Regions from separate parts of the Homo sapiens genome. Here region 2 is linked to region 1. A link means that fine-mapping ties the variant in region 1 to the expression of a gene that starts in the linked region. Tissue or cell type: whole blood. Region 1 holds a variant in brackets; the other region holds the start of a gene. All regions are shown on one strand. Distances are between the middles of the regions.

Evidence for each region. PIP is the estimated chance that this variant, and not a neighbour inherited with it, causes the effect.
Region 2: SURF4 starts here. The variant in region 1 is fine-mapped to the expression of SURF4 in whole blood (TOPMed, PIP 0.99).

The regions. Positions count from the first base shown.
Region 1 is chr9:133,247,035-133,255,134 of GRCh38, forward strand. It overlaps the pseudogene ABO. Among named protein-coding and RNA genes, the nearest start is that of OBP2B, 42 kb to the left of the region's middle. RefSeq lists enhancers at 4,800-6,380, 5,405-5,623, a cis regulatory region at 5,522-5,567 and a silencer at 6,700-7,487. The variant C/T (reference allele first, on the strand shown) is at 4,945.
Region 2 is chr9:133,371,561-133,379,660 of GRCh38, forward strand. SURF4 (surfeit 4) reads right to left here and starts at 4,500. Exons shown (of 6, transcript NM_033161.4): 1 at 4,362-4,500. The coding sequence starts at 4,409. STKLD1 (serine/threonine kinase like domain containing 1) reads left to right here and starts at 4,806. Exons shown (of 18, transcript NM_153710.5): 1 at 4,806-5,000; 2 at 7,476-7,562. The coding sequence starts at 4,914. RefSeq lists silencers at 3,925-4,204, 4,215-4,454, 4,545-5,044.

The DNA of each region.
Region 1 (8,100 bases):
CTAGAAAGACTTGGGCAGAGGCAGCGATGGCCTAGGCCCACTCAACCCAGAGAGCTCTGAAGACACGCCCTGCCTTCTGGGAGAACTGCCTGGTGCCTCCTCAAGCAGATCCTGGGGGGCCCTGTGTGGGGGTCAGTTCCCTGTCCTCAAGGAGCTCACTTTGACTCTGGGGCAAACCTAGTGTGGGTGGTCGGCATCAGCCATTGTCCATGTGGGGAGACTGAGGATCAGAGGGGCACATCCAGCCTGGGAAAGCCAGACCACGCGCAGCTCTTGGCATTGTCTTCACCTGCTCCGTCAGCAACACCACCCCCTGGGGGGCAGCTGGGTGACCCCCATCTCACAGCAGGGGAGACAGGGCTTCGAAAAGCCCCTGTGCAAAGCAGAGCTGGGACTTGAGGCCACCGGATTTGGTGCAGAGGAGACAGCTTGGATCCAGGGACAAGCTCTGCCAGCAGGGAGGACAGGACTGGGTGATGGGAGCTTAGTTTTGGAATAAAAAAATCTGCAAAGGAGCCTATCTGTCCAGTAAGCACCACAGAAACAGAGTTCCCAGTGGCAGCCACCATTCCTTGAGGGCCTCCCCTGTGTCTAGCACTTTCCAGAGTTTTCTCTCTGATTCCTCCACTCAGACCTAGTAGGGACAACTGCAGGGCCTGGGCTGCAATGGTGGGGCTGGGCTGCAGTGGTGGGCTGGGCTGCAGTGGTGTGTCTGGGCTGCAATGGTGGGCTGGGCTGCAGTGGTCGGGCTGAGCTACAGTGGTGGGGCTGGGGTGCAGTGGTGGGCTGAGCTGCAGTGGGTGCAGTGGTGTGTCTGGGCTGCAGTGATGGGCCTCAGCTGCAGTCGTGTGTCTGGGCTGCAGTGGTTTTTCTGGGCTGCAGTGGTGAGGCTGTGCTGCGGTGATGGGGCTGGGCTAGCGCTTCACGTGTGGGTCTCTCACGCCTGGTAAACCAAATGCCCTGCAGCAAGGAGTCCACACAGGAGCCTGCCAGGGGCGGCTGCTGATGGCTCCGGCTTCTGCACCACTTGCCCGGGGATGTGGGGGCTCCGTATACCCTAGTATTGTTACCAGAAAGGAGTCCCAGTCCAAACCCCAAGACAGGGTTCTTGGATCTCAGCTGAGTATACTTATACTGATTTCTGGATTATAGGCTCAACAACAGGTGGATTGTTTGTGAGTTTTCCAAGAAAGGGGAGGGGATTTTTCTGAACTGAGGGTCCCTCTCCTTTTTAGACCATATGGGGTAACTTCTGGACGTTGCCATGGCATTTGTAAACTGTTGTGGCACAGGTGGGAGTGTCTTTTAGCAGCTAATGTATTATAATTAGCGCATAATGAGCAGTGAGGACAACTGGAGGTTCCTTTTGTCGCCATCTTGGTTTTGGTGGGTTTTGGCTGGCTTCTTTACTGCATCCCATTTGATCAGCAGGGTCTTGGTGACTTGTATCTTGTGATACTAATCCTGCCAACCTCCTATCTTATCCTGTGACTAAGAATGCCTAACCCCCTGAGAATGCAGTGCAGAAGGTTCAGCCTCATTTTACCCAGTCCCTATTCAACATGGAGTCGCTCTAGTTCACTCGCCTCTGACAGTGATGATCTATCCTTTACTGGGGCTCAGCCTTCACCCACTGAGGGGCCCTGGATGGAAGCATGTGTTTGCTTGGTGGGGATGACAAGTCGAATTTCCCAGCCCCTGTGATCCAGAGGCTCTTCCAAGACACCGGGACTGGAGAGGAGTGGGGGGCCTAGATGGGGGTGGGCACGAGAGGCTGGTGATGGCTTCAAGAGGGGAGGGGCACACTTGCCAGGAAGAGGCTGAGTGCAGCAGAGAGCAGCGGGACTGACATTTGAGGCAAGGGTCCTGTGGAGGGAGGAGGGAAGAAGTTGGAGAGTGATGCCTGGAGGCCAAGGTGGCACCACTGGGCCCTTCCGCAGCTCCTGGGGGGAAACTGGGTTGGGCCCAGGTGAGCAGGAGGGAAGGGAGGGTTCACCCTGGGAGTGCAGGATGGGTGCTGGTTTAGGGTGAGGACCTGGGGAAGCAGGAGAGGTTAGGAGAACGACCACGCTGAAAGTGAAACCGCCTTTGCAAAAACTCTATCAATTAGAAAAATTGTAAGAGTGAGCTGAGCTAACCCGCCCCTCATCTTTCCTTTCCCTTAATGATTCCTGGGCTTTTGGGCTGAGCTAACCTTGGGAGACATTTAATTTATAGTTTAAATAACAGCAGGCCTCCCCCAAAACTCTTCTGCCTGTGTAAACCTAATGAAAAGCTATGAGGCGAGAGGGAGAAGCTAAGGTGTAGACCTCTCTAGCAAAATACACAATTTCCCCAACTGTAGATTGGTCTTTTGAGATATCTTTTCAGGTTTTTTGCAGGTCTGATACCCATGGCTCTACCTGGAACCCCCAACCTCACTCCTGTGACACCCCCCTAAGAAGCGATTTAGCCTGCAGGAGGACAGCTTTGACCCTCCATGAGTTCATGTCTGCCCCAGCCAATCAGTACCTGTTACTTGGCCACCCCTGACCCCCCAAACTGCCTTGAGAAACCCCTAGCTATGAGCCTTTGATGAGATGATTTGAGTACAAACTCTCTCTACCATGTGGTTGGCCTCATGTCTATTAAACTCTTTCTTTACTGGAATGCATGGTCTTTATTTAGAAAGGGAGCAGGAGGAACCCCTTGGGTGGTTACAGAGGGCAGGATGAAATCCCTTTGAAATGAGCAGTACAGAACTCCAAAGGAAGAGATGGGGTCTGTGTGTTTCTTCTGCCACCTGAAATAATTGAAAGGTTCAAAATCCAATGTTATAGAGTTTATTCGAACTCTAAGTTTGACGACCACCACTCAAAAAACACAGACTCTAAAGGAATGGGCTCAGTGCTCTGAGGTGGAGGGATTAGGGCTTCACTTAAATGGGAAAATACAAGGAGGTTTAGCATGATTACATTTTCCACATAAGATTGGCTTATGAGTTGCAGCAATTTGTTTGGTTATATCCTGTTCCCTTCGGGAAAAGTATATTTAACATACTGTCTTATGGAATTTGATAGGCATGGGGTCTTTTGTACCATCTGGTCTGAGTTGGGTGCAAGAAAAGAAAGAAGTTAATTCGTAACAAAAGGTCAGTAACTAAGAAAGGGAAGGGGTCTTACATCTGGTGCCATTTAGTCTTTCATAACATTTTACAAATCAAGAAAGGAAGAGCGTTAATCTATAATTGGAGAAGCAAAGTTCACAGCGACTTGCTGCTTGACTAGGGTGTCAGAATCACATTCTTTCAAGGCTCGAAGTAATTTAAAGTTCCAACAGCTTTAATCTGATGAGCTTATTGTCGACAAAAAGAGTCAAACTCTGAAAAATATTTGAAGAGATTTATTCTGAGCCGAATCTGAGTGACCAATGGCCCGAGACAGAGACCTCAGGAGGGCCTGAGAACATGTGCCCAGGGTGATCTGGGCACAGCCTAATTGTATACATTTTAGGGAGACATGAGACATCAATCAAATACATGCAAGATCCACATTGCTTCTGTCCAGAAAGGTAGGACAACTCGAAGGTGGAGCGGGGAGGTTCCAGGTTATAGGTAGATTCAAAATTTTTTTATTGGCAATTGGTTGAAAGAGTTATTATCACTAGAAAGGAGTGTCTAGGTTATGATAAGGGGTTGTGGAGACCAAAGTTTTATCATGCAAAGGAAGACTCCAGGTAGCACGCTTCAGAGAGTATAGATTGTAAATGCCACTAATCAGACTTAAGGTCTGTGTTAATGTTCATGCTGGTCAGCTTTGCTGAATTCCAAAAGGGAGGAGGACATAAATGAGGCATGTCCACTCCACCTTCTCTTCACAGCCTGAACCGGTTTTTCAGGTTAACTTTGGAGTGCCCTGGCCAAGAGGAGGGGTCCATTCCGATGGCTGGGGGAGTGGGCTTAGAATTTTATCTTTGGTTTACACTACTTTCAAGCTGCGAACATCATAAGCCACCTTCTGCCAGGTGTGGCCCTGGGGAGGGGTCCCTTAACATGTGATAGGAGGTGCCACCACGGCTAGGCAGCTACTTGTCATCAGGACACAGAAGAGCCTCTTGGACCTGGGGAAGGACCTGTGAGACTGTGAAGAGGAAAAGTCAGTTTTGAATCAAACCCATTTTATAAATAAGAAAAATTACAAAACGCTTCTCAGAAGGCGGCGGGGTGGGGGGCGGTGAGGAGGGGGACCCAGGGCACCTAAAGGCTAATTCTTGCTAGAGTCATTTAAATTTTAACTTAAATTTTCTAATGTTGCTAATAGACTTAATTATCTGTTCACACCTTTTAAAAATGGCTAAACATGGCTGAGCGTGGTGGCTCATGGCAAAATCCCAGCACTTTGGGAGGACGAGGAGGGTGGATCACTTGAGGATATGAGTTTGAGACCAGCCTGGCCAACATGGTGAAACTCCATCTCTACTAAAAAATACAAAACTTAGTCAGGTGTGGTGGCAGGCACTTGTAATCCCAACTACTCAGGAGGCTGAGGCAGGAGAATCACTTGAACCTGGGAGGTGGAGGTTGCAGTGAGCCCACATTTCACGACTGCACTCCAGCCTGGGTGACAGAGGGAGACCCGTCTCAAAAAATAAAAAATAAAAAAAGGAATGGCTAAACATAAACATTACTTTTACAATCAAAACCATTTCAAAGGCCTTACTTCACTGGATTCTCAGCCAGTGCTGCCCCCAGAGCAGAAGGCAGCTGTGGCAAGCAGAGGGGCGGCCCCACCTCCACCTGGAAGATTCCTGCTCAGATCCTGGGTCACCTGCCCAACTGATGATGCCCCAGCTGCTCCTGCTGCGAAGCTGAACCCAGAACCCACTCAGGTCTGGTCCCCACTCCGCCCCCAGCACCCCTAGTGCGGCCACGCGGGAGGATGGGGCCCGAGGCTGCAGGGGAGGAAG[C/T]GGGTGGATCAAGGCAAGCCTCGCCTCGCCTCGCCTCACCCATGGGTGTTGGTTTTTGTTTTTTAAACCAAACAGAGCAGAGAGGGGCAAGGAAGCAAAAATGACTCAAGCCCACAGAGGCAGCAGCTCTCCCTGTGCTGGGCACATGCCCAAGGCTGGCTTTGGGGACAAAGAATAATCAAAGATGACACTTTGGGGCTGCCCTCTCCCCAGCCCTCCTGGGCAAAGTCGGTGCGTCCCAGGAGTCAGCCTGGACTTGAACCTCTGACACCCGATTGCTGCTGGCCTGGTGCAGGGACCCGAGGGGCCCGAGGACACAGGAAAGGGCCTGGAGGGAGAGAGCAGCCGGACTCCGCCCAAGCAATTTAGGCGCCTGCCTCATCTGTGGTCCCCCACACCCCCAGCTCACCAAGCAGCAGGACAACCCCTGGAAATCCCCCAGGGAGGCGGGGCGCAGGGATTGCAGTGAGGCCCTGTGCCCAGGCTGGCTGTGCCCTACCTGCGGGAAGAGTCACTCCAGTCCCTCTGGGCTGGTCCAGGTGCAACCACAGTAGGACACAGGTCAACTCCAGTGAAATGTGGAGGGAGGAAGGGTGTGCCTGCCTGCTCCTTCCCCTCCCTTGCAGGGAGGGGCGGTTGCCCTCAGCAACAGAATGCCCACGTGGGATACTGGAAGCTTCAGCTTACCCCACCCCACCCCTCCAGGCCCGGTTTGTCCTGGGCGCAAGGGGCTACTTCAGAGCTGCCAGGCCTCCACAGCAACACATTAAATGTTCTGGAAACTAGGAGATGTGGCACTGCTGTACAACGGTCAGGAATAGCCATCCTGTCCTCCTGACCCGGTGAAAACCAGCTTCTGCTGGGAAGGAGCATGGGGTGGCGCCTGGCTTTTGGAGTCAGGAAGAACCAGGCTTAAGTAATAGAACTGCCTGACCTCCAGCTTGTCTCTTCAGCTCCCAGGTCTGTGCTCGATTTGGGATTATTGGGTGGGGCACATAAGAAGCTGCGTTCTGTGCTCTCAGGGTGCTGGACGCTGTTTCAGGTACCAGTACACACCAGAGGGAAGAGAGTGCCTGATGGCATGGTGATTGATTTTAGTGGAGACAGCTAGACACTAAACCAGGAGTTCTGTCATGCCAGTTGGTGATAAATTGATTTCTTGAAGATTTTTCCACTTCCAAGCAAGGTAGAATAGATGCACCTGTCCCCACGCCCTACACTAAGGACAGTTAAAATCTCTGTATATTTCCCTGGGTATTACACATACATATATAACTACATACATAAACGTATGTATATCAAACACTAAAAGGTGGAGAGAAGAAGGCAGACCATGTAGGGACCTTGGGACCTGAGGAATGACATGACAGGAGTTCCCTGGGTTTTCTTTCTGCCTCATATATCTGTGACTGTGTGCTGGAAAAGCCAGCAACACGAAACACCAAAAGACACAGACAAAAACCAACAACAACAAACCCAACAAGTTGGCCCTCAGCCAAAATAATTAGGCAAGAGGAAGAAATAAAAGGTATCCAAATTGGAAAGGAAGAACTTAAATTGTCCCTGTTTACAGATGACATGATCTTATAGAAAACCCTAAAGATTCCACCAATAAGATGTTAGAATAAATGAAATCAGTAAAGTTGCAGGATATAAAATTAACATACAACAATCTGTAGCATTTCTATACCCTAACAAAGAAATCAAGAAAACAATGTCATTTACAATAGCTACAAAAAATACTTGCAAATAAATCCAACCAAGGAAGTGAAAGATCTGTATGCTGAAAACTATAAAACATTTGTGAAAGAAATTGAAGATACAAATAATTAGAAAGCTGTCCCATATCTGAGATCAGGTGCCAAAAAAAAGACATCCCATGTTCATGAATTGGAAGAATTAATATTGTTAAAATGTCCATACAACCCCAAACAATCTACAGATTCAATGCAATCCCTATCAAAATTTCATTGACATTTTTCACTGAAATAAATAAAATAATCCTAAAATTCGTATGAGGGAGTAACACCTGCTCCACAGTGGCACAAAGCACTGTCAGGTGCCACACACAGCCTGTTGGGACATGTGGGCCACAGTACTTCCCCACCTAAAGTACTGTAGAGGCCCAGGAGACATGAGCCAGGGCCATTTTAACTGTCAGTAATGGCCACAAAGACCCCTAAATAGCCAAAGCAATCTTAAGCAAAAAGAACAAAGCTGGAGACAATACACTACCTAACTTCAAGATATACTATAAAGCTATAATAATCAAAACATCATGGTATTGGCATAAAAACAAACAGACCAATGAAACAGAATAGAGAGCCCGGAAGTGAATCCATGCATTTACGGTCAACTGATTTTTGACAGAAATGCCAAGAAACACAATGTGGAAACGACAGTCTGTTCAATAAATGATGTTGGGGCCAGGTGCAGTGGCTCATGCTTATAATCCTAGCACTTTGGGATGCCGAGGTGGAAGGACCACTTGAGGCCTCCCTCCAGGCTCCGGAAGAGACCTCCTCCATGATCCCTTGTCTAAGGGGAAGGTTCCTCAGGACCTTACCGTGGGGGCTGAAGGTGGCCACCCCTCCAGGAACTTATGCCCCAGGCGCTGAATTTGGGCTGCCTAAGTCTGTGTGCGTGAGTCTGTGTTTGTGTGCATGTCTGCATGTCTGTGTGTTTGCATGCATGTCTGTGTGTCTGTGTGGTCTATGTGTCTGTGTGTACACTTCTGTATGTCTTTCTCTGTGCATTTTTGCATGTGTCTCCATGTGTCTCTGTGCATGTCTGTGTGTCTATATGTCTGTGTCTTTGTATCTGTGTATCTGTGTCTGTGTGTCTTTGCGTGTCTGGTGTATGTCTGTGTGTGTGTGTATGTCTGTGTATGTAACGGTGTGTCTCTGTGGCGGGGGGTGTGTGTGTGATTGTGTGTGTGTGTGTGTCTGTGTATGTAATGGTGTGTCTCTGTGGCGGGGAGGGGCTGTGTGTGTCTTTCTGTGTATGTGTGTGTAACGGTGTGTCTCTATGGCCGGGAGGGGGTATCTGTGATTGTGTGTCTGTGTGTGTCTGTGTATGTAATGGTGTGTCTCTGTGGCGGGGAGGGGCTGTGTGTGATTGTGTGTCTGTGTGTGTCTGTGTATGTAATGGTGTGTC
Region 2 (8,100 bases), 120 kb after region 1:
TAACCACAACCTCCTCTGCTCCTCGCCCGCACTCCCCTGAAGAGTGAGTTTTAACCTCCCGTTAAGATCATCACACAAAGAAAAGTGAGTCAGCTCCTCTTTGCCTTCTCTCCCCACTCCTTCATGATATAGGGCAGGGTATGACAGAGCCTGCCACTGTCACCAGGACTTTGCCACACCAGTCACCAGCATGGTGTTCATCGGGACCCTCACAGTGCCTGTGCCACCTGCAAGTTCAGGGGTCCTCAGGCCTATCCTTGCTTCCCCAGCACTTCAACTAGGGCCGAGGCCAGCTCCTAGGGCCCAGGACTAGCTCTGCCACTCTTGAGGACAGGTTAAAAACACCAAAGGTCACACTGGAGAGGAAGGCCCCATGCAGCTTTTCTGTCACCTTGGTGATGAGCCACCAGGCAGAACCCATTAAGTGCTAATATTGCTGTTTATGGGTATAAACTGCTTAGAAGCTACATTTTACAGAGTGTCTAATAGGCAATGAGGAGCAGCTGCAGGCATGGACATTAGTTTGGATTGCTGAGTTCATTAGTTTCTGGACCCTTCCCATGGCTTCCAAATGCCAAGCTCCTGCATAGAGCACGTCTCAGCAGTTTCTACAGAGCATGGCTCCTGGGAGCAAGAGGACACTGTCCCTGGCTGCCAGAGCAAGCAGCTTGATGCCAGAGGCAGAGAGACAAGAGATGCAACTGTGGGGAGCCTGCCAGCAGAAACTAACCAGACTGCTCGTCCCCGTGGACCAGCCTCTGCAGGCCAGAAGGAAAGATCAGTCAACCAAGCAGTGAGGAACCCAGCCTTTGGGGTAACAGGATGCGGACTCAGTCTCCAGGCCACCACAAGCCAGTGCGGCCAGCCAACCTCCCTCTGCCCATCTGAAGATGGTGACGCTCTGGCCAACCTCCTACAGTCAAGAAGTTCACAAAAGGAATGTCTATCATGGACCCGGCCCAGTGAAAGACTTAATGTCATTGTCATAATACTGGAAGACACTGGGCCTGGGAAACTAAGCTTACTTAGGTCTTGCTTTCAGCAGCCCACACTTTCTGGTCAAATCTTGTCACTTCAGTTTTGCTCTTGTTTTCTGAAGATGTGAAAAAATGGATGTGTCACTTTATCTGATCAGTGACTTCCATGGTAATCCTCTATCGGCTTCAAATTAGGTCATTTTCATGTAAAAGCCTGGTCTGGCAGCTTTAAGTACTATGTGAATAAAGAGAAACAAAGCCCCACCTGGGCTTGGTCAGATTCTGTCCACAAGAAGCCATATTTTGACTTCGAACCCTGTTTACTTGCCTGCATCTGTCTGATTGGGGTTTGGGCGAGTACAAGTAGCTGCCCTCCCAAGCTGCCCACAAAAGGGCATGGAAGCTCCCACAGCCATGCTCTGCCACCACCTAGACGGACTCTTAAGGAGATCATCTGACGGCGGCAGCCTGCGCTGCCTTACAGATATGGTGCCTTACAGATATGGTCCTAACCCACTTGGGTTTTGTATGTGAGCAGCCCCTTCACCCGCTAGTGCTCTTCCCTTGACTTGTGCCAGAAGAGCAACACCAGGGGCTGGGGGCGCTGGGGACCAAGACCCGGCTTTTCTTGGTCTTGGTCACAGGCAAGTCTAGGAGCCTGAGCAGGTTTGGCCTCCCCTCAGTAACCTGGGAGAGGTCGACTCTGTGCCCCCTCAAGAGCCTTTCCAGTTCCAAGCTACTGCTTCTTTCATTTAAAACATAACAGAATACATGATGAAGGCTGGGCGCGGTGGCTCAGGCATGTAATCCCAGAACTTTAGGAGGCCAAGGCGGATCACCTAAGGTCAGGTGTTTGAGACCAGCCTGGACAACATGACAACATGGCAAAATGCTGTCTCTACTAAAAACACAAAAATTAGCGGGGCGTGGTGGCGTGGGCCTGTCATCTCAGCTACTGAGGAGGCTGAGGCAGGAGAATAGCTTGAACCCGGGAGGCGGAGGTTGCAGTGAGATGAGATTGCGCCACTGCACTCCAGCCTGGGTGACAAAGTAAGACTCTGTCTCCAAAAAAAACATAATAACAAAACATGAAGAAAAGGCAGGGCAGGGTGGCTCACGCCTGTAATCCCAGCACTTTGGGAGGCTAAGGCAGGCGGACCACCTGAGGTCGGGAGTTCGAAACCAGCCTGGCCAACATGGGGAAACCCCGTCTCAACTAAAAATACAAAAAAATTAGCTGGGCGTGGTGGCAGGCGCCTGTAATCCCAGCTACTTCGGGCTGAGGCAGGAGAATTGCTTGAATCCGGGAGGCGGGGGTTGCAGTGAGCCGAGATCGCACCATTACACTCCAGCCTGAGCGAAATTCTGTCTCAAAAAAAAAAAAAAAAAAAAAAAAAAGAAGAAGAAAACAGTATGTGAAGACACTGGGAACTTTTTTTTGTCAATAGGGGAGTCTGTCATTTGCTAGTGGGCAGCAGCTTGACTGGAGACATTTGATCTAGATTTGGTTATGAAATTCACTTGCAAATCCAGGTTTTCCAGGACAAAGAGCGAGTGTATGTAGCTCTCATCCTTCCCTCAGCTATGAGGAGCCATCTTCTTAGGGAGCTGCGACTTGGAGAAATATAAATGGGTCACTATAAATTATGTCAATGAAAACTGACAAACCTAAAAGGTCTACCTGGTTCTTGAGAGCTTTTGATATGAATTGTTTTTAAAATTGTGTCTTTAAAGGCTGGGTGCCGTGGCTCACGCCTGTAATCCCAGCACTTTGGGAGGCTGAGGTGGGCAGACCACCTGAGGTCGGGAGTTCGAGACCAGCCTGACCAACATGGAGAAACCCTGTTTCTACTAAAAAAAAAAAAAATACAAAATTGGCTGGGTGTGACGGTGCATGCCTGTAATCCCAGCTACTCGGGAGGCTGAGGCAGGAGAATCGCTTGAACCCAGGAGTTGGAGGTTGTGGTGTGCTGAGATCACACCATTGCACTCCAGCCTGGGCAACAAGGTCAAAACACCATCTCAAAGAAAAAATAAATAAATAAAAATAAATAAACAAATAAAATTGTGTCTTTAAGCACAAAATCAGAATCTTAGGGAAAAAATGCTTCGTCAAGTTGATTACTTTTTCCCTCCAAATTTAAAATATTGGCTCACAGAAAGTGTTGCAATGAGAACCGATGGTGAGGTCACACTAGAAAGAGATCACCCCCCAGGAGGAACGGAAGAGTTCAATAGCTGATCAGAAAACGGTCACTTACTCTTTTCTTTTTTTTTTAAACCACACATATACAAGCCTTCCGATAAGTCTAGGCCTCAGAGTTTGATGACTCACTACCACCTCCAGAAAAATTTAAAAATTTAACCATCACTACTTAAAACTCTAGCAAAGCCACACGAACACATTAAGTAAACCGAGGAAAAAACGGCAAGTGGGCCACACAAGGCTCTCCCTGCGGGGATAAGGCTGTTAATTTGTCGACATAACGGGATTCTTTTAGAAGTAAAAGGCATAAATCTGCGTAACCACCACCACCTTTTGTTTTTGTTTTTTTGTTCTGTCAAGCTTAATCAAGAAAGAGGGAAGGGAGTTGTGTCCCTTCACTTTGTAGGATCGGATCCTGTCCACCCAGTTCCCGAATGCTCTCAACAGTTACCCAACCGCCTGTTTCAAAGGCTTCCCTGTTGCTCAGAATGCCACCTGGACACTTCTGGAAGGAGACTATCAGGGAGATAGGCTTCCCCTCCTCCCAGGCTGTGTACAGGTCCCCACTCAATCCAGCCCAGGGCAGAGTCCAAACGGGGAGGGAGACGCAGACAGGGTCAAAGGGACCCCAAGAGTCCAGCACATCTGGGAAAGAGAAAAGGAAAAGGTGCTGTGGCTTCCTGTAGCTGGGGCGCACGCCAGCGCGCCCCCTTTCCTCTGGGAGGACCCCCGGCCCCCGTTCGTCCCCGAGCTCCCAGCCCGCCTCCGGGAGCCCCAGTGAGAGGAAAAACGTGCGGGGACCCCCCAGCAGCTCCAAACGCCGAGGCGCTCCCCGCGAGCCTCAGACCCGACCCAACGCCAGGACTCGCGCCGCCGGCCCGGGAAGAAACCCCCACAGCCCGCGCCCCGGGCTGGCTGGAGGGTGGGGGCGGCTAGCCAGGCAGGGCGCCGAGGCCCGGGCTCCGGGAGCGGCCCAGCGGGCAGGGGAGACTGGGCCCGGAGGCCGGGTTTGGGGCTGTCCAGCCGGGACAGAGGGCCCGGGCGGGGGGGTCCCCCTGTGGGAACAAGGAGTCAGGGGGCGGCCCGGGCCTGGCGCCCTGCGCTGGGAGGCCGACTCCGGAGCGGCCCGGGCGGCCTGGGTCGGGACCGGGGCCGGGGGAGGAGCCCGCAGGCCGCACCTGGTCGGCGAAGTCCTCGGCCGTGCCCATCAGGTCGTTCTGGCCCATGGCGACGGCGGGAGGCTCGGCTCGGCTCGCTCGCTCGCTCGCTGGCTCTCGCCCGTCGGCGCCCGCACCCGCTGCGGCCTCCACAGGAAGTGCCCGGCGGCCGGCCTCGCTCCGCGTCGGCTGCGGCTCCAGCGGCTGCCACGTAGGCCAAGCCTTAAAGGGGCCGCGCGCCGCCCGGGCCCGCCCCGGTGCGTCTTAAAGGGGCCACGCGCCATCCCCAGCCTCCCGACCCATCCGCTCGAAGCCACGCCCGCCGCGCTCGACGCCACGCCTCTCACGCTGGAGGCCCCGCCCGCCGCGCGCAGGCCCTGCGGTCCCTCCCGGCCCGGCGGAACGCGTCCCTTTTAAGGGGGCGGGGACCTGGGGGTCTGGGGCCAGCGCGCGGGAGGGACGCCTGAGTGCCTCGAGGGCGCCGTTCGGGCGGGGAGGATCCCGCGGGTCCCACTGACCCACGCGGGGTGGGGCCAGGGGTGGACGCTCGCCCGTACGCGGTCGCTACTGATCATGCTTGGGCCAGGGTCCAATCGCAGGCGCCCCACGCAGGGGGAGCGAGGCCCAGGGTCCCCCGGAGAGCCCATGGAGAAGTACCAGGTGCCGAGTGTTCCCTGCGGGGAGGCGGGAGCTCCGTGGGGTAACGGTCGCAACCCTGGAGCTACGGCCGGCGGTTCCGACCGAGGGCGGCGAGGGGCCCGCGCCCTGGCCAGTGTCGGCCTGCAGCTCCTAGGTTGAACCCGGGGGGCCTCCAACGGTGACCTCCTGGGTGCCCTTTGCCACTCAGTTTCCCCCTTTGTGAATTGACTAAGGATTCTCCAGCCCTGGCTGAGTATTTGAGGGCGTGGGGCAGCTCCTCTATCCTTCGTGCCTGGGGTCTGTGCGCTTGGGTCCACCGAGGCAGGACCCCCGGGAACATCCCGAGTACATAATTGGGAGCCCCCAGTCCCCTAAAAACACCCCTGCAGCGTGGGTCTGTGAAAATGTTTGAGACCTAAAAAATTCACAAAACACAAAAGGAAAGCTGCAAAATAAAAGTAAATGTTTAATTAAATGCTTCTATACATGATATATACACTTTATTAAATGTTAGATTCAGCATTTGTGAAAAATGCATTCGCTTGGAAACAGTTTGCGGGTTAGATTTTTGTCACTTTGGAAGAATTGTCTTTGTGTGAGAGGACTATAGGGCGTTGCCAGAGGTGAAGCAGATGAGCTTCTGGTGGCCAGATAATTTTTAAAGTAAAGTTGTTTTTCAGATTAAAAAAAAATAGACGTTTCAGGAATATACCTGCTTTTGGAAAAAAAAATAGACTTGATTCGAGATACGGCTCCATTTTACTGTTTAATTTGCTGCCTAAGCTTGAACGCTCTCACACCAGCTCTGCCCTCAGCCCGCTGTGGCTTAGAACAGCAGTCCCTGGCCGGGCTCGGTGGCTCACGCCTGTAATCCCCAACACTTTGGGAGGCCAAGGCGGGCGGATCACCTGAGATCGGGAGTTCAAGACCAGCCTGACCAACATGGAGAAACTGTCTCTACTAAAAATACAAAATTAGCCAGGTGTGGTGGCGCATGCCTGTAATCACAGCTACTCGGGAGGCTGAGGCTGGAGAATCGCTTGAACCCAGGAGGCAGAGGTTGTGGTGAGCCAAGATAGCGCCATTGGACTCCAGCCTGGGCAACAAGAGCAAAACTCTGTCTCAGAAAGAAAAAAAAAAATAGCAGTCCCCAACCTTTTTGGCACAAGGGACCAGTTTTGTGGAAGACAATTTTTCCACAGATGGAGGCGGGAGGATGGTTTTGGGATGATTCAAGCACATTACACTTAGTGTGCAGTTCATTTCTATTATTATGTTGTAATACATAATGAAATAATTACACAACTCACCATAATGTAGAATCAGTGGGAGCCCTGAGCTTGTTTTCTTGCAACTAGACCATCCTCTCGGGATGATGGGAGACAGTGACGGATCATCAGGCATTTGTTTCTCATAAGGAGCATGCAACCTGGATCCCTCACATGCACTGTTCACAATAGGGTTCACACTCCCATGAGAATCTAATGCTGCTGCTGAGCTGACAGGAGGTGGAGCTTGGGTGGTAATGCGAGCCATGGGGAGCGGCTGTAAATACAGATGAAGCTTTGCTCCACTGCCTGCTGCTCACCTCCTGCTGTGCAGCCTGGTTCCTAACAGGCCACGGACTAGGTTGGGGACCCCTGGCTTAGAATATCCAGTGTCATGAGCAGGCTGCTCACAAGGCTGGATTACAGACTCCTAAGACTTTTATGGGCTCCGAGAGTCCCTAGGCTCAGGCTTCCATCCTCATATCTCCTCCTCTGGGTCCTGCCCTCCCTCCCCCAATCCTCTGATGAATGTCAGCCTCCAGCAATCCCCGGCCCAGCCCCCTGCCCCATAGCACTTGGTCTCTGCACAGAGTTCTGGCTTGGTGGCCATCTCTCCAGATTTGGCTCAAATCACAGGCTCTAAGATCAGACCCCCAGAGTTACCCCAGGCAGTGTCCTGCTTTCTAGTGACATAGCCTCAGGCAAGGACCTAGCTCCTTGTGCCTCAGTTTTCCCCAATGTAAACACAGAGGTAGCAATGGTGTCAACTGCAAAGGGTGGCTGTGAAGTGCTTGGCACCATGCCAGGCACACAATGGCTTCCTGATTGTACCAGTCACAAGATTGGTTACTTTCTTGTTGGAAACCAGTTGGGAGGTGGATGCTGGAAGTTGAGGTCACAGAGGTCTATAGAGAGTGAATAAGCCCTTTTTCTCTGGGAGGTTCTTGCACTTGAGTGCCCAGCTGGTCCTCATTGCAGGTTGGGGGAGGGATACAGGGTTGTAGAAGAGCTCCAGAATCGGCCCCAAATAGGTGAGATCAGAGTTCTGCCATTGAAAGGCTTCTTGCCCTCCTTGGGCCATTTCCTCTATTGCAAGATGGGGTGGAGCCACTTGCTCTGCCAGCCTGACAGGGGAGTTAGCAGGGCCAGAAAAGGAGTTGGAGCTGGGCTTTTGGAAAGGGAAAAGTTGTGTGCATTTCCTGAAAGCTTCTCTCTTCCTTGCTGATAGGTTTTGTACCAGCTGAATCCTGGGGCCTTGGGGGTGAACCTGGTGGTGGAGGAAATGGAAACCAAAGTCAAGCATGTGATAAAGCAGGTAAGAGGCCAAGCCTGTGCATCCCATGCCGGGTGGTTCTGTGACTGTGATTTTCCCCAATACAAGCTCTTCCCATGTTGGAGAAGCTTCCTGATGCGGCAGCTGGATTCCTCGCTGCTGACACTTGCGGAGACTAATCTGGTTGGGGTAGATGTGGGGGTGCGTGAAGCTCTGTCACCTTGATGGGGAAGCAATGCTAATTTTTACTCCAACACCACCACCTCCCACCATTTACGCATCACGTGCTGTATGCCAGGCACTGACTCACTTCATCTCCCGTCAACCCTGTAAAGCAGAAACAATGACCCTGTTTATAGCCAAAGACAGTGAGGCTCAATGCAGCGCCAGACTAGGCAAGGTCACACAATTTCCAAGAGGATTTGAATTCAGGCCACCTCACTGGGGGACACCGTGCTACCCAGTGCTGGGTCACCAGTTTTACCAAAAGGGAGCCAGGCCCAGAGAGGATGGGGACTGGCTCAAGGTCACACAGGGCTAAGGTCACACACCAGGCCCTGAGCCCTTCCACCACACTCCT